4 separate regions of the Homo sapiens genome follow, and all the other regions are linked to region 1. Evidence: fine-mapped expression QTL. A gene starts in region 1. Each other region holds a variant in brackets. All regions are shown on one strand. Distances are between the middles of the regions. Region 1 holds the start of MTAP (methylthioadenosine phosphorylase). Region 2 overlaps MTAP (methylthioadenosine phosphorylase). Region 3 overlaps MTAP (methylthioadenosine phosphorylase). Region 4 has its middle 24 kb from the start of MTAP.

Evidence for each region.
Region 2: its variant is fine-mapped to the expression of MTAP in whole blood (TOPMed, PIP above 0.99).
Region 3: its variant is fine-mapped to the expression of MTAP in whole blood (INTERVAL, PIP above 0.99).
Region 4: its variant is fine-mapped to the expression of MTAP in whole blood (INTERVAL, PIP 0.96).

The regions. Positions count from the first base shown.
Region 1 is chr9:21,800,368-21,805,520 of GRCh38, reverse strand. It overlaps MTAP (methylthioadenosine phosphorylase), which reads right to left and starts at 2,885. Exons shown (of 8, transcript NM_002451.4): 1 at 2,740-2,885. The coding sequence starts at 2,772. RefSeq lists a cis regulatory region at 311-312, enhancers at 240-384, 2,043-2,252, 2,747-3,375, 3,376-4,006 and a silencer at 2,543-2,702.
Region 2 is chr9:21,827,873-21,833,025 of GRCh38, reverse strand. All of the region lies in intron 4 of MTAP (methylthioadenosine phosphorylase), which reads right to left. Among named protein-coding and RNA genes, the nearest start is that of MTAP, 28 kb to the right of the region's middle. RefSeq lists enhancers at 1-917, 785-1,094. The variant A/C (reference allele first, on the strand shown) is at 2,484.
Region 3 is chr9:21,836,521-21,841,673 of GRCh38, reverse strand. It overlaps MTAP (methylthioadenosine phosphorylase), which reads right to left. Exons shown (of 8, transcript NM_002451.4): 5 at 3,664-3,766. Among named protein-coding and RNA genes, the nearest start is that of MTAP, 36 kb to the right of the region's middle. The variant T/A (reference allele first, on the strand shown) is at 2,485.
Region 4 is chr9:21,775,674-21,780,826 of GRCh38, reverse strand. No RefSeq gene overlaps it. Among named protein-coding and RNA genes, the nearest start is that of MTAP, 24 kb to the left of the region's middle. The variant C/T (reference allele first, on the strand shown) is at 3,065.

The DNA.
Region 1 (5,153 bases):
CTCCCTAGGAGTCTTTTCTGACACCCCTCACCCAATGGAATCTTACTGCTGTTTCACTTTCATGTCAGTTGGTTTCCCACCCTGACTAGAATATAAACTTGAAGAAAATAAATAAAGGCCTCGCTTACTCAAAGCTGCATCCCCATTGTCTAGCAGGTATTCAATAAATATTTTTGAATAGGATTCCACCAGTAGATGGCTAGATTTGAAAGATATGCCAAATATACTGCCAATCCAAAACTCAGTGGAATCTTTCACTTGCATGAGTTAACTGCACCTCTAAAATTGAGAATGAATTTAAGATCCACCCCGTTAATATCTCTATTTTAAGAAGAGAGGTACTTGGGCTGACATTAAAGGAGTACCTGGAACTGGGCTGAGTGTGTTACATGTTACTGTATTTAAATCCAGCAACCTCTCAAAGGACCTGCCAGTGACACCAATGGGGTTCAGACACACATGTGCCTCCTATACCTATACCTGGGTGGTGTGCAGTGGGCACTGGAGGCAGCCTGCTTTCTGCATACCCTCTGCCTCCCTCTTCAAGATGGACATTCTATCAAGTGCTCATTTTAATTGTGCATTAGGTCACAAGAAAACAGGGCAGAGACCACACTTCAGATTTCAGAAATGCCTCACATCTAGTTGGTGGAATGCCAGGCTCTAGGCCCAATTCTGTCATTATCTAGGTCCAGCTGTGTAATTCTGGATACTTAGCTGACCTTTCTGGGCCTCAACTTTACACCCGCAAAACGGGTTTGTGTGGCTATATGGATGGTCTTGAAGGAACACTCCAGCCCCATCATTCTATAATTTGGGAATAGGATGTGGTTTTTATTAACCTATTTTGCTCTGGACACTGGCACCTCACATCTTCTATACAGAATGTTGCCTTAGAAGTCTGGGGAATACGGTGCTGGCATCATGGAATCTCTACGGCAAAGCTGTCATCTGTTCTAAATTAAAAGAGAAATCAGCAGGCAGTCCTAGCACCATATGTACCTCTTAATTTTATATCCAGAAGCTTGCCAAGACCAAAAATACACACTATTCAATATTTACATCAGGTCTCTGAGAATCCCATTGCCCATTCTGCACTTAAATGCACTGCATTAATTTGAAGGGAAACCCTGTGGCAGGGAGAATGCTAACCAGATTAAAGTAAGACTGTTTTAAACACCATTTCTCCATTTTTAATGGCGCTTGAAGTGTATTCCTGCAAGGATAAGGTGAAAAGTTGTGGCCTAATGATACCTAACACAATAACTTAATAATTTTTGGGGAAAAGATCATTCAAAATTAATCTCAGTTCCCCCACTTATAAGCACTACCACTTAATAAGCTTCTACCATGTGCAACATAGACAATATAATTCTAGCCCTCCTAGCAAATTCTGCAGTAAAATTCTCAGTTTATAGATGAGCACCTAAGAGAAGTCACATACTTCACACGAGTTTCATGAAAACCATTTCTGCCTTGTTTCCGCCAAACAATGAAGGCAGGGGAGAGGCCTTCTATAAATATTTGCTGGATGCAAGATTCTTTTCAAAATGACAAAATAAGTTTCATATATAAGTCTGGATGCAACACCCTTCACCATTCCTCTCATTCTAAGTGGCTCATTTAAACCTGCAAGGGCGTAATAAACTAATCTGGCTGATTACACACTGACCGCAGAAATTCGCCTTCTCCCGGGAAAACTGCAGTCGAGTGTAGGGAATCGAGATGCTTTGGAGAAGATCGCAGACCTTCCTATCCCATAGGCCAAAAATTTCTAAAAATCAAACAAGAACGCATTCTTAGCCAGTAATAAACTGCCTAGAAGAGGTCTTAAGTTTTATCATCAATTTTTCTTTACGTGCTGTAATTCTCTCTCGGAATACTAACCAGGAGAGAAGTGTTTAAAACCCCAGGGAAGCCAGCTGCTACTCTCAGAACTCGTGCCCTCCTCAGCACAAAGCTTCCCACCGCACAATGACCCCTTGTATCAAGGCCTCTCAGGGCCTAGGGCACAAGGAAATTGAACTCTAACTTGCAAGGCTGCAAAACAAAGCAGTTTCAAGCCAGAGGCCTCCAAACAGTGCAGCCCTAAAAACGGACGCCTGTACTCCTTTTCGAAGAAAGTCTCAGAATTCTTACAGTATTACGCTGCTGGGGAAAACTTCAGCGCGGAGAAGGCCTACGTTTGGAGGAAAAAGAAGCCGGAAGCATACAAAAGAGCAAGTAAGCAGTTCTCCCACGTGGGCCGCAGGCAACAAGCAGAGTCAGAGAGCGGAAGCTGGAGTCCCGCAAGGCACCAGGAGACGGTCACAGAAGCTGCAGGCGCCCGGACACCTCCTGACTCCAGCCGGGTGTCTTTCTTGGAAGAAGAGTGGTTCTCAGGAATGGTGGTGGCATGGGTGCAGCCTCTCCCATCCACGACCTCTCTCTCTAAAGGGGTGCCTACGCCCTACAGGGTGCGGGTGCAGATAAGCCAAAAGGTGGTGTGTGTGTGTGTGTGTGTGTGTGTGTGTGTGTGTGTGTGTGTGTGTGTGTTGGCGGTGCGGCAGGGGGATCATTTGCAAGCGTACCCTCTCCTCGCGCGGCAAGTGAGTCCCGAGTGCCGCGCCCCAGTCCCTCCCCGCGGCGGCAAGGGACGCACGGGCCGGGCGCATGGCCCCCGGAGGCGCGGTCCCCCGGCGCGGGGGCGAGAAGGCATCCGGCAGGGCGAACCGCTGCGGCTGGGAGGGCTCATCTCACCTTCACGGCGGTGGTGGTGGTGCCAGAGGCCATGTCTGCACGGGAAAGGAATCTGCAGTGGGCGAGCGCTCGGGACTAAGGGAACCAAGCGAGCCACAGAGCGGTGGCTGTGCCAACCTCACTGCGCGGGAGTGAGCAGTGCGGAGACCAGGGGCGGGCCTTGACTCCTCCTCTTCCTCCCCGGGACAGCTGGATTGGCTGCTTGTGTGGGATCTCCCCCGCCACCCCTTCCCCAAATCGAAGTTCCCGCGTTCCGCCCCTTTTGCAGACCTTTCCGGTTCTCCAGGTTTTTGTCGTTTTTTTTTTTTTTTTATCCCCAGTTATAACTAACGGATAATGATAATAATGGAGACCATTTATAGAGCGCTGTATTGTTCCAGACTGTGTGTTTTGCACTTTAATTGGCTTACTTAACTTTCGCTAAAACCTTATAAGGAAGAGCAGCACTCCCTGCTTGGCCCAATATTAGTGGCGTCGGAGGCCTCAGCTGCAAAATCTGGCCCGGCGGCATTCCAGAAGTTCTCGCGGGAGGGAGAATCCTCACCAAGGCGGGTACTGGCCGGCCACGGAGATTCTCTTAGGCAGCTAACGCGGGGCGGCCGCCGCGGCGGGGGCAAGATTTGTCCTTCCTGCGGCTGCGAACCCACCGCGGGTTTGCGTATTTCCCTTGATTCCTGGAGGACAGAGCTGGGATGGACTTGACCCAAGACTCAGGGATGACGAAAGGGAAATAAACAGAGTAACGTAGTACTGGATAATCTTTCTGATTTACGAACTATGATTTACTCATCTTCAATTTGAGGGGCCGCTTTTAGGGGGTTGAGACCTTGCACAACTCCCAGTCTGGCTCTACCTGGCTGGGGGCATCTTTAACCCGTTCTACGCCGGAGCGGCATCGAATACACCTGGATTCAGAATCCAAACTCAGGTCTCCGTCATTCAACACTAGCAGGACGCACACACACACACACCACGAGCCCTTTACAGGGATAATCCCTCATGCTTACAGCCCCCGTCCCTTCCCTACTGGGGTAATCCAATTTAACCTTCCTTGATGGATTAAGCGTTCTGAAACAAAATAATGGGTGGCAAGGATCTTAAGGGTGGACTCTGAGATGTAGAAATGCTGCAAATTAGCCTGGACGTGGGAGGAGGGCCGAGAAAGGGGATGCTTTCCTCTTTCCTTACAGCAGCAAAACACGGAAACAAAACACAAGTACAATTTAATTCAAAATACCACTGTGTGATGTTAGCCTGGATGCTGCTCATAGAACCTATTTACTTAAACAGTATAGACTTTCGTCCTCACATTACTATAAGCTTTAGGTCTAAATTTTCTCACAATGTAAAGTTTTCTTTCTTCTGTTACAATCATCTATTTCTTTTAAGTTATAAAATGCAATGGCAAAAGAAGAATGAAAGTAGAATCCGGGTGCTCCTTTGAGGAATAGGAGACAGGGAATCCTTCGCGGATGAAGACAATGTAGCTTTCTAGGGGCCTTTCTGCCGATTGCTCTATTGAGGAGCAGGAAGCCCACCACTCAGAAGTGAACCATTGAGGGCACAGGGATGCCCTAGGCTTTATGGCCGCTACCTAAGTAGGGGATCCTAGCCAACTTAAGTGACTTGATATGGTTAACAAGTCCAGTTTCTACTCAGCACTGCCTCTCTGCTAAAAGTTAGACGTTGTAACCAAGTTAGATCCTGTAAGCATAAAATACCCCTAGGCATAGGAGTTGGAAACTTGGCGAGGACCAGGCTGGACTTCTGGACTTTTCTACTATAACTTGCAGGTTAGGGCTCAAGCATTTGCTCTTGAAGATGTGATGTCTGTGAAGAGGAAATTCTTCTAAAGTTTGAATTTCATGTAAACTTACATGTGACAAAATATTATTCTACTTTTGATATTTTCTCAACCACTTAAGATTGTAAAAAAGCATTCTCAGTTCAAAGCTGTACAAAAACAGGTGGAGAGCTGGGTTTGGTCGAGGTCTTGGGCCATTGTTTTCCGCTCAGGGTAGTGCCTGAATCAGACGACCCCTTGCTACCCAGACTTGGATAACCCTTGGGCAGTCCTGTGGGACAGTGCTTTCTTTAGTGCAGTATCTTTGAAAAGGTAGGCAGTAATATTTTTGCCTTATTTCCAAATTTTGGGTCATGTTTTTTCTTAACAAGCCCTAAAATAAAAGGAAGACAAAATTTTCAATAATTTTGAATACGCAAAAATTTTCAGTGGTCTCCCTTTTTGATTACTATGTCAACAAGACAAGGAGAGTCGGTCTATTTGTGAACATAGATTTTGCCCTGCCCTTCTGTTCTTATCCTATAAATCCCCCTCTGTTAACCTGTACCCTTGCTTTTCTAAAGATAATTATCAAGAACTAGGTCACCTTACAACAATTCTGATTATGAAA
Region 2 (5,153 bases), 28 kb before region 1:
ATTTTCTATTATATTTCATGAGATCATGCTAAACAATAGCACAAAAATAAAAATCCTCACTCTACATAGGTGGTGACAACAACCTCTTTGGGCCTCAGTTTTCTCACCTTTTGTAAAAGGGAAGGATAAGGTAGATAGAAGATGTCTTCTAGAGCTGTGATAATAAGCAGTGCCAGAAACATAGTAAGGGCCTAAGTTTCTTCAAGTATAAACTGGAATAATGACTGCTGTATGCCGTAAGTGGGATTAACTGATTGTGACACCTAATAGGAACTCAAAAACTGGTAGTGTAGGATTTTTAATAAAAGGATGTATGATGGGAAGTTAATAACACAACTAGGTTATGGAACAGAACGTAAGAATGAACCTCATCCAGGGGAATAGTGGACACCACTTCAAGGACAGCTACAGACAAGAGGATGACAAAGAACAGGGACGCAAGTAACTGGGGAAAGGGAAGGTGAAGGAAGGTGAAGAGTTTATGCTTAAGTTTCTGTCTTCTCTATAAAGGTGGAGGTGACATTCTCAGCTAAAGAGTGAGGGAAATGAGTAAGAAGAAGTAAGAACAGTAAGGGTTAAAAACAGCTTACTATTTTTAGCAATGAGAGAAAGAGCTAAACAAAGGCTTCTTGCGTAACTCTTTACCATAAAACGCTTTCTAGTCATCAAGAGGCAGAAAGAGAATGATCAAATACTTGACATCAGAGCATACTCCCAACCTCAGGGCCCAGACACGGGCCTTTATGCTATGACATAAAGTTCTAGGGGAAGCCCAAGGCAGGGCTGGTCTCTGGGAGAAGGAAACAGACTGACATAACTGATCCCTCAGCACTGTGTTTATAGCGGGACTTTCCTGATGAGTAAGAATGCGTGACAAAAGCAAAGTCGAACCTCTCCCAGTTCTACCAAGAAAATAAGTTGAAGAAATAATCTGAAGAGGGGAGGATACCAGAACTTTTAGGAATCAATTCAACACCCTCATTTAGCAGATGAGGACACTAAGTGACAAAGGAATTTCACGGCACAGCCAGGAAAGAATTCTGGATGTCCTCACTTCTAAGCTGAGATTCTTCCACTGCATTCTTTGAGAAGGCATAACCCAAACACAGGCCTTAGGCACAACAGGCCAATATGTTATTAGCCACATTTTATAGAAACTGTTTAGCACCGGGAATCACACTCTGCTTCCTTTAATATTCAGTTTTTGGTCATATTTTTCTCATTGTAAAAAAAAAAAAAATCAATATCTGCAAAACATTCCTGATAAAGAAGACTATTAAAAAAGAAATCTCATCCTTCTCCTTACTGATATGTTTGCAAGTTTCACCTTGAGATATTTCTGACAGTGATAGCAGTTGAGCAAGTCCTACTCATCTGATCCTTTTCTAAAAAATATGTAGCTGGGTGCAGTGGCTCATGCCTATAATCCCAGCACTTTGGGGAGGCCAAAGCAGGAAGACTGCTTGAGGCCAGGAGTTTGAAACCAGCCTGGGCAACATAGTGAGACCCCATCTCCTTAAAAAAAAAAAATTACCAAGCACAGTGGCAGATTCCTGTAATCCTAGCTACTAGACGGGCTGAGGATTGCTTAAGCCCAGGAGGTAGAGGCTACAGTGAGCTGCGATCAGGCCACTGCACTCTACCCCGGGCAACAGAGAAAGATCCTATCTAAAAAAACAACAAAAAAATACAATGTGGGCATCTTTTCAAATAGTTTATAGATCTAGTTGTTTTTCTTAGATTTGCATAATAAATATGGTGTACTGATTTCCTACAATCATCAGGATTAATGGTAAAGAGAAAGAAGAGCAACTGTAGAAATTGCTGGAATCCCCTGTCCATGTATCTTTAATGGCATGGACAGTTAGTAGTTGGGGGTGAAAGAAAGGCCATATCATCAGTTCTGCCATACATACAAATGAATGTGCAAAGGTATCTAACAAGAACTGGGCTAGAAAATGGAGGGCCCATGTACCACAAGTACAGGAGGAGACAACAAAATGCCTCATGACTTGAATAAAGCAGCTGGCAGGGAAACAGTCTTGCTTTGCTCCAATGGCAAAAATCTCATTAAAAACCAATCCTGTGCACCACTTTATAATGCATCATCGAAGTCGAGCTTTACAAGTCCGGTGGGTGTGGGAGGCAGGAAAGAGTCATGCCTTTCTTCTCCATGGCTGATGAATAAAAACTAAGCAAAGGCCCAGTGATGCATAGTCATGCTTCTACATTTCTCTAAGTCTCATTTACTTTGACTCTTTTATGAGGTCTTTTTTCCCCTATTAATAGAAAAACTTGCTTCAGTTTCCCATAAGTGACTCAGTGAGAGCCAGGTGTGCATACATACAAGGGTGTGTACCATAGGAGAGAAGTTCCAAAATTATGAATCTGGGAGTACATATCTTATGAGAGCCTTTTAATGTATAAACAGCCTGATGACATTCTTTTAGGACAGACTAAAGGTCAAATACTTTCCCCAGTTC[A/C]AACTGACTGTTTAATCGCTGCAAAGAAGTGGAACAAATCCCACTCCTAACCATCTTTTACCCTCAGTGGCCAAATGACTTGTGGCTCTAACAATGGGGACCTTGTACAAGTTAAAAGAAATGGATTAATCAAACACAATCCAGCAGGAGGCATAGGCACTGAAGAAACCTACTGCAGACAAGCCTCCTAGACAAAGTTCTTGGTATAGATTCTGATTTTCCTATTTTTAATTTTTGGTTTGGGAAGAACACTACACACAGAGCCCAGGGCCTATGGCAAGGAAGCATCAGGAAACTCGTCCCTGTGCAACAAAAACGGGAAAATGAAAAATATAACACATTCTTTTGGAATTTAAGTTCTAGACCAAGATATATGTTGCTTTCTATGGATGCTCTACTCACAAATGAAAGATGATTATTTTCACTTTAATTGCTATGGAATTTACTTGAATGAGAAAGACACAAAGACTGACTGCACATACCCAAACATACTTGAACCCACTGCACTCTCTACCTCTTTTTCCAGGGCAGTCACACCCAGGGCTCCCCTTTTCTTATGCCCAGGCTTTTTAACTTCATCAGCTGTAATGTAGCATGAGAGAGAGAAGAAAAAAAAAGATTTTCAGATAAGAATGACATTTTTCTTAAAAGAGCTTCCAGCATTGTCAGAGTCCTTCAAAAGTATATTTCATTATTAGAGAAGAAATCTAATGTTTCTAAAAACAACCCTAAAAATCAGCCACATGTCTTTCTTAAATCTGAGGTTGGTCCCCCCGCCCTGCTCATGCTGGCACTGAAGGAAAAGAAAATGATGTGCTTTAGCTTGGCCATCTATAAAATAAGAATAGCCGTATTATTAAACAATCTCGCTAGCCTTTGAAGAACACTTTAGGATGAGGATTTTTTTTTTTTTCTGAGACAACGTGCTGACAAACTTACGGCAATAGGCCAATGTGTGTGGTTCTAGGTAAGTCCCTGGAGAGAATACACGGGCAGTGTAGGGAAAAGGAGCCTGGCCAGGCACAGTGGCTCACACTTGCAGTGAGCCGAGATTGCATTACTGCAGTCTAGCCTGGGCAACAGAGTGGGACTGTCTCAAAAAAACAAACAAACAAAAAAAAAAAACAACAAAAGAATGAGAGAGAGAGATGGTGCAATTCAGCCCTCCATTGGGAAGAAAGAACCAACGTGTAGTGGGTAAAGTGATTTGCACAGGGCCAAACAGAGTCAAGATGAAACCTCCTGATTCAATGCTCCTGCCCCAGCTGCCCTGGAATTCTATAATCCACGGGGTGGCTTTACAGGATGTTACAATCCTGTTAAACAAGTTGGGGCTGTGGGTATGACTCTGGGAAACCCCAGGCTAAAAATGGCACAGCCTATTTGTATCTGATGCCATCAGCAAGTGGAGGTAGGAGATGCCCGTCTCAATACACCAAGATTCACTTTACTAAGAAATGTGCTATCAGTAAAACACATAGAGGGCATTAACCACAAGGCATCTTCTGCTATGAGATGTTCAAACACATAATGAATGATATATATGCAAGGCATCTTCTGCTATGAGATGTTCAAACACATAATGAATGATATATGTGCTCAAGCCTGGTTAACTGGAACCCACTCAGCTCAATCAAAGGCAGCAGCACTTAAAAGATGCATCCAACAGCAATATGATGTTAGCCACCTACATAGTTTTAAAATTTCTAGTGGTCACTGAAAAAGTAAAAGAGAAACAGGTAAAATTAACTTTAAAATCTTGTCTAACCTAATATATTCAAAACGTTATCACCCCAAATAAGTAATCAATGTAAAAATTGAGATTTCATGCTAAATTATATTCTCTTAGGGATCCTTCTTTTTTTTTGAGATGGAGTTTCACTCTTGTTGCCTAGGCTGGAGTGCAATGGAGCAATCTCGGTTCACTGTAACCTCTGCCTCCTGGGTTCAAGCAATTCTCCTGCCTCAGCCTTCCGAGTAGCTGGGATTACAGGTGCTCACCACACCTGGCTACTTTTTTTTTGTATTTTTAGTAAAGACGGGGTTTCACCATGTTGACCAGGCTGGTCTCGAACTCCTGACCTCAGGTGATCTGCCTGCCTCAGCCTCCCAAAATGTTGGGATTACAGGCGTGAGCCACTGCACCCTGCCAGGGATCCTTCTTTTAACAGATTCTTTCCTCCTGTTGTTGTAAAGTAGTGTCAACTAGTGGACCCTCCAGCCAGTATGCACACACTCTCAATAATGGCACTCAGTTACTGAGAAGGTTAACACATGCAAGATCCCACAAAAGGCACTTATTAGAGACTTTGAACTTCCAAGGAAACATTAAGAGGGCAGGTTATCCATATGTCTCATAAACAGAAAAATAGTAGAAGATCTTAAGGTTACCTGGCTAAGATAGAATGAAACCAGATCTGATGGCAATACCTGTTTTCTTTCTAGTCTCCATCTTCTGACCCAACTGCTTTCTTGAAAGAGCCAGTATGTGAAACATCTACATTTAAGACATGTGAGTAAAAGATCTGGGAAATGCAACAGCGTATAGTCATACTGTTTAAGTAACAGATTAACCCAAGGCTCAGTGCCCAATTCAGACTTTACAGTATCATCTGTAATACTTTATACATCTGGATCATCCTGAATATGGAGTTTTGTATTCCACTCTAT
Region 3 (5,153 bases), 36 kb before region 1:
CTCTTCTGGGTCTAGCCACCCATTGAGGCCACCAGGCTCTGGGCTGTTGCTGGGGGATGTCTGCAATGAGTACTGCGATGTGATCCATCTTCAGGTCTCCAAGCTGTGGCTACTAGCACCTGCTCTGGTAGATGTGGCAGGGAAGTGAAGTAAACTCTGCAAGAGTCATTGGTTGTAGATATGTTTAATGTGCTGGCTCTCTTGAATGCTGCTTATGCTAGCAGTGAAGTTGTCATGTGGACATATTCAGGATCTCTGGTTAGCCAGGATGTTGCAGGCAGTGAAATTAGGTGTTGTCTTTTCCGTCCTGGGATCAGGGTTATTGTTTTATGAGTTGCTGTAATGGCCTCAGTTGACTGGCCTCCAGCCAGGAGGTGGCACTTTCAAGAGAGCACCAGCTGCAGAAGGAGTAGGGGGCTCTAAGCTTGCCCTAAGATGCCCAAGGTAACTATTTTGGTTTCCCAGGCAATAGGCAGGGCAATAAATATTTTGTGTTTGGCTACCAGGGTGGGTAGGGAAATACCATCAGGTTGGGGCAGGGTTAGGTGGTTCTGGGCTCAGACTCTTCTTGGGCAGGGCTTGCTGCAGACACTGTGGGAAATTGGGGGATGGGGGTGGTTTGTCAGGCCACTGGGTTTATGTTCCAGAGGAGATCTTGACTGCCTCTGCTGTATCATAAACTTTACCAGGGTAGTGGGGGAGAGCCAGCAGCAAGAGGCCTCATCCAGCTACTATGCAGTTGGTGAGGCTAGTCTCACTCCTGCAGTGCCCTGCTCAGACCTTGCCCCAGGCTGTGAGCTACCCCACTGGGAAAGCAAGCATGGCCTTTGGACCTCACCCCTTCCCACCTGCCCACTCCATCAGCAGCAGCTCCTGTACTCACTTGTATCTGCTGCGGCTCCCATTAGTCCCTTGGACTCTGCCTGAGAAAATTTGTGACCAGCTGAAACCACTACTGATTTCATTTGGGAGCTTCCTTCGCCCTGCCATCACTCTCCAATTCCACTGGCTGCCTTACCTGAGGGCCACTGTGAGATATAGTCAGGGCTGGCTTCCCTGGACTCAAGCTGGAGACTGGGAGTACATCCAAAGCACTTCCTGTTGCTACTTCTACTTTCATATTTCACATAACCCCCTAAATCCGTTTCACCTCTAGGTAAGGTTAAATTCTTCCTCCATGATCTGGATTTTTAGATTTCCCCAGTGGGGATGTGTATTCAGAGGTAGGTTCTCCCCGACTCACACTTTGGGAACTCAGTTTCTTGCCTGTTTTGCAGAATTTGCAGTGGTGTGCCACTTCTTTCAAAGGATCTTTGAATTCTTTTGGTTTTCCCGGTAAGTTCCTACAGTGGTTCTTGGAACAAAAGATCATAGTGTCTCCATATGCTATTCTGTCCGTCCTTGTGGAAGCTGCACGTTAGCCCTGTCTTTTCTTTACTTTTTTTTTTTTTTGACATGGAGTCTCTGTCACCCAGGCTGGAGTGCAGTGGCACAATCTTGGCTCACTGCAAGCTCTGCCTCCCAGGTTCAAGCGATTCTCCTGCCTCAGCCTCCCAAGTAGCTGGGACTATAGGTGCCTGCCACCATGCCTGGCTAACTTTTCGTATTTTTAGTAGAGACAGGGTTTCACCATGTTAGCCAGAATGTTCTTGATCTCCTGACCTCATGATCCGCCTGCCTTGGCCTTCCAAAGTGCTGGGATTACAGGCGTGAGCCACCGTGGTGGCCAGCCCTGTCTCTTATCTGCCATCTTCCCTGTTTCCTGTTACCAGCTTTTTTTGTTAACTTTCCAAAAATATTTTATTTGTATATAAATATTTACATACTTACTTCTTTGTATATATACATACTTTAACATAAATGGTAGAATATGGTACAACCACTGAGTATCTTGCTTGCCACTTGACAATTCATCATGACAGTCCTATTCCATCAGTACATGAAAGATCATGTGGATGTTAAAAGTGAAAATTACCAAGTGGCAGCACTATTTACTCTTCATGTTTTTGGATAATATTTAAAAATTTCTTTCTGAATGCTTATTTTGCCATTTTCTTAAATTGCCTTTCCCAGTATTCTCTCAGTCTTTATGAAGCTGAATTAATTTGGCTTCAAGGGAGGCTAACTTGGATTACTGGAAATTATCACCACAGACCCACATTTACATGTGCTCTATACAGCTCCATTGTGCTTTCCCCATCTACCTCTACTCCTAGTTCCCCAAGTCACTGTATTTTGCCTGAGAACTGACCTCAGATTCATACGAGCATGCATATTCTCTCCTTAGACTATTTCTTCCCAAGCTGCCCCCATTTTGAAGTGGACAAGAATTTTATCCATACTTCATTTCCCCCAGGATAGCAAATCTATTATGTGGACAGATCTGTGCTTCAGAGGAAGACTAGCAGCATTCTGATACATTCTGTGGATAACTATCCAGAAACATGCTATACATACATATACAAACTTCGCCTGCCACTTTTT[T/A]AAAAAAAAAAAAAAACCAAGTAAAAGACGTACTTTCCTAGAAGTCAGAGAAAATCAATGCGCAGTGGTATCTCCGAAATGGCTTCCCTCAGTACTCGGTTTTAGATTCCAAATTCTTGTTTGAGACTAGAAATATTTCTCCCAACCCTGTGTCCTCAGTTTAGGTGCCCTTGCTGTTAACTATAAGGAAATGGGTTTTCTGTGATTATGTAGGATAAAACATAAATGCTAAAAGAAATCATCTACTCTCTATATGCAGGTGTTAACATTATCTGAATAACTAACGTGTTTAGGTATTTATATTCTCTAAGTTAACTCATAAGGGAGATTTTATGAAGCAGTTAATCTCTAACGATACTTCTGATCTTTTGAGTTGCACCTGACTTTCAAACCTGGGATTATAAGAGAAGTAGCACATGTGGACCAAGCCATAGGCTTCTTAGTCATGGTAGCCATTTTTGTTGCTTGGGAACTAAAACTGTGATTCCACCCCTTATACCACCACTGGCCCTTGTGGGGCTGTCCCCATAGTTCTGTGATTTGGCTATAATGGTAGACAGAAGGCTGGGCAGTAATGGCCAAACTCAGGTCAAAGGCAACAGCTGCCAATCTGACCATTTTTAGAAGATCAATAATAGTAATTTAATTCACAAAAGCAGTTACCAGCCATTGGATGTTCCATAACTGACAGGCATGGTTCAGAGACTTCATTAAGTATTAACTCTCTCATCCCTCACACAGTCTTATAAGGTACATGCTATAATTATCTTCATTTTAGAAGTAAGATAACTGAAACCCACATATGTCAAATAATTTGTCCTCTTGGACACAGCTACTTTGTTGAAGAGCAGAGATTTGATCCTAAGTAATCTGGCTCCAGACTGCATACTCTTGAGTAATGTGATATTCTATGTTAAATCATTTTATCTAGATAGCAAAATCAAAACTTATTAAAAAGGTAGGTTGCAACTTTGAGTGGTTCAGCTTAAAATGACTGAGAGTAACAGAGGAACAGGAAATTATTAGCAACAGGAAATAACTCTTCATAAAACTTTGCATAATACAAAGCAAACTTGAGTGAGGGTATGGGGCCACTCGCTCTGCCAATTAACCAAATGCCAGATGCCACCCCAAGCCCACATGATTTATTCTGGTACACCTTCCAGAAAGACTACACACCTCTCTCGTTTTGGGGCAAAACGGCTCAGCCATTGGAATATGGCACACTCCTCTGGCACAAGAATGACTTCCATCATAGAAGGACTGAGGTCTCATAGTGGTCCTACAAAATAAAGCAAAAAAGGTTTTTGTTTGTTTTATTTTAAGGCCATCTTTCCATCCTCCGAGGGCTGGTGAGTCAACTTTATCTAGGTCAATATTTGGGTCTTTACTCCAGACTCAATTCCTCTGGATAAGCTAAAGACAATTGTTTACAAAAGCTTCAGGGTGGTATTCCGCTTTTTTGGCTCTGGGCTGGCAGCAACACACCGCACAACAAGAATTAAAGTGTCTGTGGTCTGGCAGCCGTGACGGGGTAACCACTTTGGATTGCAGGTGCAACTCAACTGTGGGCTCAGAAAGGCCAGGTAAGACACTTAAGAAGTCAATACAAAAATGTTTCATCATCACAGACGTGGAAAATCATATACTTAACACCATATACACATCACCCAGATTCAACAATTTCTTAAATTGTGTCCAACTTGCTTCCTCTATTAGCTTTTTCACAAACACAAATCCCAGGCTTTGACTCAGAGCAGATGCAAATTTCCCCAATGTCTTAAAAAAATTTGTTTTTAAACAGTTGCTTTGTTAGTTTCAGGGTCCAAACAAGGTACTTACCTTGCATTTAATTCCCATGTCTCTAAGAGTAATTCCTGCCTGTAACCCCAACTATATTTTTTCATGCCAGTGACCCACTGAAATAAAGAGCCACTTGTCTTGCTCCATATTTAGGAATCTTTGTTCGCTGCCTCATTTAGATTGTTCTTTTTCCCAGCCGTAATTAATTCTAAAGTGTCTTAGTTCAAGTCTTCTGACAAAACAGTTTTGAATCCATAAGAGAGGCTAAAATTAATCTAGCACCAAGTCACCTGGAAATTTCTTGTCAGAAGTTTTCAGAACAAGCCACTTTCTCTGTGCATTCAATTATTCTAAATTTGAACTGATGAGTAACACAGGGAGGAGGGGACAGCATGGGAGAGATGGGTCAAGGGAAGCCAACAGGGGCAGGTAGATAACATGATGTCCTCTTCCAGGGGTGGGAGGCAGCACTGAGAAATAGTTTCACTGGTTCCGTTTACACAGCTGGCAAGTCTACTGGCCAAAATTAACCTGTTACTTCTAGTTCATCACACACTAAACAGTGGCATTAGCTGGCACCAAGGCCACCTCACTCAGAAATAAGGCCTCAGCGCTCTGGAGGAACAAAAACCCCATCCGAGCTCCTCCCAACCCACTGTCATATGCGCTTTAGGGGAAATGCTAAGTTAACCCCAAAGCAATTCCAGATGGAGTTGAAGAACAGGTCAAATGACTGTTTCAGCCTGTATAAACAGAGGCTTTTCTCTTTTTGAAAGATTAACCAATAAAACGGTGACACGTACTCAACTTCAGCTCTGGCTTTGTTTCAGCCTTTGATGAGTCAAGCATTAGCAACATCCCACTTA
Region 4 (5,153 bases), 25 kb after region 1:
TGACAGGCCCCGGTGTGTGATGTTCCCCGTCCTGTGTCCAAGCGTTCTCATTGTTCACTTCCCACCTATGAGTGAGAACATGCAGTGTTTGGTTTTTTGTCCTTGCGATAGTTTGCTGAGAATGATGGTTTCCAGCTTCATCCATGTCCCTACAAAGGACATGAACTCATCCTTTTTTATGGCTGCATAGTATTCCATGGTGTATATGTGCCACATTTTCTTAATCCAGTCTATCATTGATGGACATTTGGGTTGGTTCCAAGTCTTTGCTATTGTGAATAGTGCTGCAGTAAACATATGTGTGCATGTGTCTTTATAGCAGCATGATTTATAATCCTTTGGGTATATACCCAGTAATGGGATGGCTGGGTCAAATGGTATTTCTAGTTCTAGATCCTTGAGGAATCGCCACACTGACTTCAACCATGGTTGAACTAGTTTACAGTCCCACCAACAGTGTAAAAATGTTCCTATTTCTCCACATCCTCTCCGGCACCTGTTGTTTCCTGACTTTTTGATGATCGCCAAGGAATGTAGCTCCTTTTAATCTTAATCCAAATTCTATATGTGTTTATGGGGTGTAATCTCTGTACACATGCAATTTTAAACTTATTTTTTCTTTTTTCTGCATAAATATCTTTTTGATTTGGCTATATAGACTTCATGTGTTACTTTTAATAGCTCCATCAAGTTGTTGCATCATTTCCTGCAATAGTGCAAGAATGCCACATACCTTTTATAGTATTATAACGATACTTTTGTTGTAATATGTACAGGTTGTTCCTACTATTATTTTATTATATATGCAAGACGGCACTCAGATTTACCCTTGTTTTTGAGTGAGGCAAAATATAATTATATTTCATAACTGTAAAGTAATATCACAAGGAACATGTTGGAAAATTTATATTAATTCTATTGTTTTTTGCTTAAGGAACATAATTGCTAAAGATAAAATGTGAACTTTTAGAAGAATGACATTTCAATAAAACTTTCTAAAATGGTTGCCCTAAGTTACAATATCGTATTATGTGAATATTTTACAGCATGTCATCACTAGAATTTGTATTATTATTTGATAGATATAAACAAATGTTTATATCTCTTCTTGTGTGAAGTCTTGCTCATATCATTTGACCACTGAACTCTTGAAATTCTTTTCTTTTCTTTTTTATTGAGACAGAGTCTCACTCTGTCATCCGAGCTGAAATGCAGTGGTGCAATCATGAATCACTGCAGCCTTGATCTCCTGGGTTCAGGCAATCCACCCACCTCAGCCTCCAAGTAGCTGAGATTGCAGGCATGTGCACCCACACCTAGCTAATTTTTTAATTTTCTGTAGAGATGGGGTCTCCCTACATCGCCAAGGCTGGTCTTGAACTCCTGGGAGCAAGCAATCCTCCCAGGTTGGCTTCCCAAAGTGTGGAGATTAAGGTGTGAGCCACCTTGCTTGGGCGGAATTATTTTCTTATACACTTAAATTTAGATATGAACCCTTTTTTTTTTACATCTGATGAAAATAATTTTCCCTTCCATTGTAGTTTTTTGATTTACATAATTGTGATTTTTCAAATCTTTACGTATTTGAAAATTTTTCTTTGAATCTTTTTTATTATATCTGGTTTCATCCAGATAAAATTATCTTGTTCTTCTATTTTTTCTTATAAATGAATTCTTAACTTTGCGGTTTATTGTGATATGCCATATAAGAATGATTGAAAAAAAAAAGTTGCAGACCATCACGTTGAACATCTGGTATTTGGTTTTATGAGATAATAATTATAAGAAATACAATAGGATTCTACTCACTGTAGAAGCTGAGAGCAGAAGGCAGATTTTTTGAAGGGAATGTCTCTTTACTTTCCTTATTGCATTAGATCTCCCTGATCCAAACAACAAGCTCTGAGAAAGGGAAAAAAAAATCTATGCCCCAAATAGAGCAGAGTTTAGAACTAAAGACAATGCTGGCATCTCATTGTCTCCTTAGGTTAGGTGATCTAATTTATCTTTTCGTTTTATGAAATTAATCTCAAGCGAACACACTGTTCACACTTTTAAGTTAAGGGATGCTTAATGTGCTTAGTGCAAGCTAGAAATATTGATTTCTTAATGTAACACTTAAACACATATATTATTGCATCAATTCCTGGCAGAAACTATTTTAACTCTTTGAACTAGTAAAAAAGGAAAGTCCTGTTTGTGGTTAAAAATATGAGTGCATTTAGTAACACTTCCGGCCTGGTAAAATTACAATCCAGAAATGCTAACAAAAAATGTTGCCTTATTTGGTTACTTCACTTTAGCACAACAAAACCTTGTCTTTGGTTCTTTAAGCAGTTAACTTCAGTACCTCAAATGTTTCTTAATCTAGGTGCTGAAAATGAAAAGATACATAAGAAAAGATTTCTGCTGGGGCAATTTAAAGCTTAGTGCAGACAGATACAGAAAATTGATTGCAACATAATTTGGTAAATCTTAAGAACCAGACCATTTAACTGCTTGTGTCAAAGATTTTAAAGGAGACTCACAGTTTACAGTTAACAGTAGAGGGGCTATTATCCTATCTCCCTTTTGACACTGCCCCCAGCTCAACTTAAAAGGGCTTCAGAACCTCCCAGGCTCCTTTCACACCACCTCAAGCACCTAGCTCCTCAACCTGCTTCATCATCACATACCACCCAAGGATCCTATCCCAAGAAGGAGGATATACTTAGAATTAATTTTCCACCTTTCCTTTAGAGGCGATGGAACTAATCATCATGTTTCATACTCCTTTTGGCCTCAGTCACCATAGAAGTCCAAGCATTCCAGGTCACCACAGGAACTCTCCTCCATATGTTTCTGTATATCCCTTGATCTGACTCAATCTCCCATTCCTTCCAAAACTGCAATCCCTTCCAATGCAGCTGCTAGAATTCAGGGCTTGGGAAGCACAGTCTCTTTTATTTTCCAACTCTTCTTTGAACAACACCTTCACCTTCTTGCTCTAAGCCCTGGCTCACCACCCAACCCAACCCATATCCTGTTTACCTTCAGCCTTTGCAGGGGGTGGTGGTTTTTGCTC[C/T]CACACCCTATGCTTCCAGGTCCTGGAGGTGGGGATAGGAATGTTCCTTATTTCTCATTGTTTTTCTTCTTTCAAAAACCCTTCATCTCCTATCTTCCAAGCCATTCCACTTCATGATGGAAGATTTTAGCAGCTGGCTCATTGCATTTCCTTCTACCATGACTCCTGTCATCATATTTAATGACTTCAAAATTTATGTATGTCATTATTTTTCAAATTTGGCTGCACATTTTTATTACCTCATGATGTTTTAAAAATCCTACCTGTGTTCAGTTCATCCCCCAAGCCAAACAGGTACTGATTTAATTTAGTCAAGGTAGGATTTAGCCACTAGATTTTGTTTTGCTCTAAAAAAAAAAAAAAAAAAAAAAACCCCACAACACCTATGATCTCAATATGCAGCAGGGTTCAGCACTACTTACTTAGATCAGTTTCTCAGTAAGCCTTTTCAATTATTTGACCTTCTGACTCCAACATCTCTTTCTTTCCCCAACCCCATCATGTTCACCCTAGTCATACCCTAGAGTTTGTCATTATAAGTAGCCTCCAATATCTAGTTTTTCATCATTCCACTTTCTGATATTCACAGCATCTCTTTCTGACTCCTCTCTTAAGTACAACATCATTCAAGTAATCCATGGACCCACTCCCAGTCTTTGTCCTAATCATCTCCCTCGCTTTTCTTTACCTTTTTCCCTACTCGTCTTAGATTCCATGGTTTGTCACTATAACTCTTCTCTATGTACCCTCAACTCTTTTGTCCTTCTCTCTCTCCATTATATTTGCCTAGCAAAACCCAAACCCTGGTTATATTTAACTCTGCTTAATCTATATCTGCATTCAGGCAGCTAAATGGGATGAGAGAACAACACACACATTTACTTTACATTTTGGCCACAAATCTCTGGTGGGTCCTCAGCACTTCAATAAATTTTTTATAGTAGAATTCTCTGGTCAGTTCTTTGTCCAGACAACTGTTTGATATCTTCCCCCCTTTTTAAACCTCCAACATTCCCTCCTTGTCTTCACTCTCAGCTGATAACCTAGATTTTTATTTCATAAGAAAATAGAAGTAAGCAGAAGAGAACTACTTCCTTTTCCCTTTACCAAATCTACCAACCTCCTTGCTCCACACCCAAGTGTTCCATCTTCTCTTTGGTCACAGACGATAAACAGCTCCTGCAGCCTGGCTTCTCACCCCCTTCCACCTGTGCCAGGGCTTTACTCCTCTAATCATCTTTTTTCTCCTGAACATGACTCTCCCTTCTTACTGTAGATCATTCCCATCAGCTTACAAATAGACCCCCATCTCAGCAAAACAAACCCAATCCTTTCCTAGACTTCTGGTTGCACTCTAGCTCCAGTTGCATTCCTCAACTCTTCTTCATAGCAAGTTTCTTGAGACTTTTCTGTACTCGCTCTCACTTTCTCACTTCTCATCTCTTTAGCCCACTCAAGTTGGGATTTAGTCCTCATCACTCTCCTGAAATTGCTCTGTCAAAATCACCAGCAATCTCCCTGTTGCTAAGAGCAGCAGTTAATTTTCAATCTTCATTTTATGCAGCCTCACAGCAGATTTGGCACAATCATCATCCACCCTGAAGCATTTTCTTCTCGAGCCCTTCTGGATACCACTATCTCCTAGTTGTTGTTCCATCACACAGCTGTTGCATCCTGGTTTTCTCTGCACACTCTACCTTTCTCAATATTAGAGCACTCCAGCTTGATGTTCTTGCTTGGTCCTGCCTTCTTCACTGCCTGTACTCACTCCCTAGACCATTTCATCCAGGCACATGGCCTCACACAGCATCTTCATGCTGATGATAATCCCCCTCCGTCCTTTCTCCTAAGCTCTAGGTTTAAATATCCAATTGCCTAGTAGGTACATTCATTTGTGTATCTAAGAAGCATAACATGTTAAAACCAAAATTTTTTTTTCTTCTCACATCTGCTCTTTATATGGATTCCCCTTGGCTTATCCATCCCCTAAACTGCACAATCAAATGTCTAGGCACTATCCTTTTTCTTTATTTTCTCAAATTTGACTTTTTTCCTTCTCTTTTCCTTCCTTCCTTCCTTCCTTCTTTCC